Regions from separate parts of the Homo sapiens genome. Here region 1 is linked to region 2. A link means that fine-mapping ties the variant in region 2 to the expression of a gene that starts in the linked region. Tissue or cell type: whole blood. Region 2 holds a variant in brackets; the other region holds the start of a gene. All regions are shown on one strand. Distances are between the middles of the regions.

What was found. PIP is the estimated chance that this variant, and not a neighbour inherited with it, causes the effect.
Region 1: PLXNA2 starts here. The variant in region 2 is fine-mapped to the expression of PLXNA2 in whole blood (TOPMed, PIP above 0.99).

The regions. Positions count from the first base shown.
Region 1 is chr1:208,243,042-208,245,725 of GRCh38, forward strand. It overlaps PLXNA2 (plexin A2), which reads right to left and starts at 1,343. Exons shown (of 32, transcript NM_025179.4): 1 at 602-1,343. RefSeq lists enhancers at 1-382, 383-882 and a silencer at 1,401-1,460.
Region 2 is chr1:208,444,854-208,447,537 of GRCh38, forward strand. No RefSeq gene overlaps it. Among named protein-coding and RNA genes, the nearest start is that of LINC01735, 170 kb to the right of the region's middle. RefSeq lists enhancers at 339-1,538, 698-1,198. The variant C/T (reference allele first, on the strand shown) is at 1,644.

The DNA.
Region 1 (2,684 bases), 200 kb before region 2:
GGGAGATGAAACACTTAGACCCATTCAGTGCCTAGGAATCTCTCCCTGAGCCTTATGGAACCCGCGCAAATGATGTTTTCCCATTCCCCTGATCTCCAGTCCCCGATCGGAAGGGAGAGCCGGCGGCCACCAGGGACCCCGGCACTGGAGTGAACGCCCCCAAATCGATCGCTGGCCAGTGTGGCTTTGGGCTGTCTCGCTGGTGCCACCGAGGCCCTCTTTGGGCTCCAGCTCTCAGGACAGCCTTGCCGCCCCGAGCTCCCCAAAGCCGCAGAGCGCCGGCAGGTGCGCGGTGGAGGCGCGCCGCGGAGCGCTGCTGCCGCCCTCAGCCCGCATTCGGGAAGCCGGCGGGCTGCCGGCCGGGAAGCCCTCGGCGGGAGGCAGCGGCTCCAGTGAGCCTGCGATCGCGCGCACGCCGCGCTCCAGCCCGCGAAAGTGGCCGAGCCCACGCGGGGACTCGCCCGCCGCGGCCAAGCCGGGTCTTCTGGGGCCGGGACCCCAAAGAGGCGGGCGCGGGAGAAGCCGCCACGGGTGTGCGCGCCTGTGGGGAGAGGGCGGAGGGCGCTGCCGACTCCGAGCGCCCGGCCCAGCCGCCGCTTACCCAGCTCGGCGACGTCGGTCTGTCCTTCCGTCCCCGCTCGGTCTACCTCGGCCGCCGCCGGCTGCTGAGGGCGGCGCGAGGCCCCTCTCCCTGCCCGCAGCTCGGAATCAGGGAGACGACCAAATCCACATGGAGTCCAAATTCATTAAAATCCACGTCAAGCCACCAGACACTTATCTGTATTCCTGAAGTCGCTCCTCGGTCTCCGCTCCGCGCGCCCCTCAGTCCTCCGTCGCCCCGCAGCAGCCCGGCTGGGCGCTGTCGCCGGCTCTCAGGGGGCACCCGGAGGCGCCGAGGGGGCGTGTGGGGGCGGCCGGCGGTGTCTCTCCTGAGGAAGAAGCAGAGCCCCGGCTGTCTTCAGATTTTTCCAGCGCGACTTTCCGGGCTCCTCTGACATCAGCAATCCCGGCGCTTCCTTCCCTTCTTGCTCTCCGGTTCGTTCACAGTCCCATTTCCTCCGGGAGCCTGGCTTTCCAGATCTATTTCGAGGTTTGCTCCGCTGGCTGCGGCGCTCGCACGCCCTACCGCTCCCAAGCTCTCGGGGTCTCTCTCCGGATCGCTCGCCCTCTCGGCTGAAAAATTCCCAGCAACTGCCCTCCGCCGCCCTCCCGCTCCAGTCTGGCGCGGATGCCGCTCCTCCCGGCAGCTCTGGCTCCCGCGGTGGCGGCGGCGGCGGCGGCGGCGGCGGCGGCGGAGGAGCCCTGAGCGCCGGCCTCCCTATTTCACCATGCAGCTCATTATCATAGAGGCCGCGCGCGTTAACCCCCTCCCCGCCGGCCGCGTCCGCCCGGGCTGGGGCCGCGCCCGCTGCTGGCACCGCCCGCCACCGCCAGCACCCTGCCCCCTCCCCCGCCCGCGCGGACTTCCTCCTCCGCAAGCTGTCAACAAAGGAGAAGCAGGTTTGGCATCCGGAGGCCGCTCGGCTGCCTGTCCTGCGCCCAGCTCAGCCCGGACCCATCGGCCACCTTAAGTAGCCAAGGGGGCAAGGAAAATGCTGCCAGGGCCCGGGAATTCGAGTCGGGCCTTGCGAGCCCAGCTGGCTTGGCCCCCGGGGGAATAGAAGGTCTAGCGTTGGGGTTAGGGGGGAGCTCAGAACACAGGAAGAGTGGGTGAGGGCAGTAGGGACAGGGAATCCCCCCCATTCGCATCACCTGTCACCGCACACATCCTGCACACCTCCCTCTTCATCTGTAATTTGAGTGAGGGGTGAGTGGGGAGGAACGGGGCTTGTCTGGTAGGGTTGAGACTAGAGTCTTGGAATTTGTGGGAGCAAATTTCCTCTTCTTGTAAATTAAAAAAAGAAAAAGGCCAACAAGCTGTCAAATAAGGCTTGAAGTTGTTGTTATTATTATTATTGCAATGAGAAGATGAACCTTGCTCTGAATTGAATCTCAAACTTCCAGCCCTGATAGGGATCCTGGGCATCTGGTAAGTCCCGACTTGCATGGGGGCATTGGGGACGGGAGAAGAGCTTTCTATATCCAATTCAGAGAATCTTTCTGGCAGGGTAATCAGAGGGGTGGCAATAAGATAACTTATTTTAATAACCTAAGGTGAGAGGTTTCGGGATTCTGGATGACAATGTCTCGGTGCCCTCAAGGCCACTGATTCCTCGCCACACAGTCTCAGTAACTCCGCAGCCTCTAGACACGGCTTTCCGGAAGCGGCCTGCAAGCTGGACCCCAGCGAGTTCGCAGGATCTGCGTAGTCCCTGCTCGCGATTAGAGCGCACACGAGTTTACTCCTGTCCAAGTATTCTGATAAGCTTCCTCTACTGCCCTCTCGTGGCCACAGTCCTCAGTGGTATAAATCTAAAAAACAACAAAAATCACTGCGAATACCTAAAAGCAATTGCACCAAATTCTTAGAGCAGTAGCGGCAGAAGAAACGAAGGGAGGGAAGGATGAAGAAAGGGAGCCGGAGAAAAGAGAGAGAGAGAGGAAGAAGAAAAGGAAATCTAGACTAACCAGTCATCTCGAACAATCGCACATTCAACACAGGACTGGGGGATCTAGGCTTTACTCCAACATCTGCAGAAATCAGCGAATTCTTCAAAAGTTCTTCATTGTAATTAGCTGAAATT
Region 2 (2,684 bases):
TCTCATTGGGTAGGCTCTGTCAGAGGGAAGGTCTAGGGCTGAAGGATGTTGTTCAGATTCTTTTGTCCCACAGCATAGCAGGACAATCCACAGACAAAACCCCTCAGACATGGAGTTAAAGAAGGAAGGGCTTTATTTAGCCGGGAGCTTCGGCAAGACTCAGGACTCCAAAAACCGAGCTTCCCAAGTGAGCAATTCTTGTCCCTTTTAAGGACTTATAACTCTAAGGGGGTCTGCGTGAGAGGGTCGTGATCGATTGAGCAAGCAGGGGGTACATGACTGGGGGCTGCATGCACTGGTAATTAGAATGGAACAGAACAGGACAGGGATTTTCACAATGCTTTTCCATACAATGTCTGTAATCTATAGATAACATAACCAATTAGGTCAGGCGTCAATCTTTAACTACCAGGTCCAGGGCATGGCGCTGGGCTGTCTGCCTGTGGATTTCATTTCTGCCTTTTAGTTTTTACTTCTTTCTTTGGAGGCAGAAATTGGGCATAACACAATATGAGGGGTGGTCTCCTCCCTTAACAGGGTGTTCCCTTGATTTAGTACTCTCCCCCTTTTCCTGTGGATGTGGCTTCCTGTGAGCTGAACTGAAGTGATTGTTGTCTCTCTTCTGGGTCTAGCCACCCAGCAAGTCTACCCAGTTCCAGGCTGGTACCAGAGGTTGTCTGCACGGAGTCCTGTGATATGAACCGTCTGTGGGTCTCTCAGCCTTGGATACCAGCACCTGTTCTGGTGGAGGTGGCAGAGGGTGCATTGGACTCTGTGCAAAAAATAATGCTCCATTTTTGTGCTGGTCGGCCTCCTGACAGGAGGTGTCACTTTCCAGAAAGCATTAGCTGTAGCAGTGTGGAGAGGGACTGGCAATGGGTGGGGCCCTAGAACTCCCAAGATTATATGCCCTTTGTCTTCCACTACCTGGGTGAGTAGGGAAGGACCATCAGGTGGGGGCGAGGCTAGGTGTGTCTGAGTTCAGACTCTCCTTGGGCTGGTTTTGCTGCAGCTGCTGTGGCAGATAGGGTAAGATTCCCAGGTCACTGGAGTTGTGTACCTAGGAGGATTATGGCTGTCTCTGCTGAGTCATGCAGGTTGTCAGGGAAGGGCAGTCAGGGAAGTGGCAGTCACAGGCCTCACCCAGCTCCCACACAAACCAAAGGGCTGATCTTACCTCCCACGGTGCCCCACCAAAACAGCCCTGAGTCTGTTTCCAGGCAGAGGGCTAGACGGGCTTGAAAACTTGCCGACGCTTTCCGCCTCCCAGAGTATATTTGAGGTGTCTCCCGGGTCCTGCAGTAGCAGTGTGCTTCCTTCAGAGGGTCTGTGGGTCCTCTCAGGATTGCTGGTTTGTTCTTGCTGTTGATCCGGAGCTAAAATTCACAGTGCAAGCCCCCGCATGCTGCTCTGTTCCCAGCTGCAATCTAGTCCTCCCTCCCGTCTGCCATGATCCTGAAATCCCCCTCTCTGTGGTTCTTGCTGCCCTTTGCATTACTTCTTTCCTTCTTGATTGCACAGGCTGAAAGTCTAGGAACTTGGACTTCTGCCTGTCTCTGGAAAGGGGCCCCAGGCTGTCCAGAGTAACAAATTATCTGCTTATCACAGTTGACACTGCTACCATTCTACTTTATTATTTCCGG[C/T]TATTATTTTCCCTGATTTTTGGGAAGCTGACTGCAGCTTTTTATCTAGATGCTCACACTCCATCACCGCTCTACCACCTCCTCTGTCTACTTGCCTCCCACCTTTCTGCGTGGGCTGCCCTGCCTTCTCCACACAGCGAGTCTTTATCCACTTCATCTGGTTTATCTGCTGAGAGTCCTCAAGGTTCAGTTGTTTCTCCATTGTTATTTGCAATTTATCTGATTCTAAACCTGACATTATATCTCACTGTGATATACAGTTATCTGGCTATTGTTTGTCCAATGCAAGTATATTATTTTGCATCCACTTTTTTTCTTGCTTTTCGAAGTTGGGAACCATGTCTGTAACATCACAAAATCTGATGTCTGCAAATCATCCCCGTAACTGCAGAGATAAGACAGGACTCATTACCATTCATGTTATCCTCACTTGGGGAGAACTCAGGTCAAATTTCTTTACCCTTGGATAACACTTTTCTTTAATTTTAAACTTGTCCTTTCTCTCTCTCTCTCTCTCTCTTTTTTTTTTTTTGTATCTTTTTTGAATTCAAGACATTCATTCACCTCCCACAGCTTGCTTCTCTGATTGGAAGACCATTTCTACTGGTGGCAGGCATAGTGTAAATATTTCATTTTTGAGGTTTGTTCAGCAAGGACTATTCGGACTGAAGATGAAATGCCAGCTAAAGTCCCTGTGTGTGAAGAACATCATGTTCAGCCTTTTTCTCCCAAGGCAAATTATTTGCTTAACTAAGGGTTTCTTCCTTGATTACAGTCCTTATTATTGAGATCTTGTCTGAATTTCCCAGGTGTGTTTTGAATTTCACAATCTCACTCTATACTCCACAGAGCTAGTCTCAGAAAATAGATTTGCATGTGCCCCCAGCTCTGACGGAGACAGAGCCCTTCCCTAGACAAAAAGCCCTGGGAATAAAGGGCTAAACAGTAACACAGTATCTGGGCATGCTAATTATTATTATTATTATTATTGACTGAGGACATTGGCTGGCTGTTAATAGACACATCTATTAGGTGTCATAT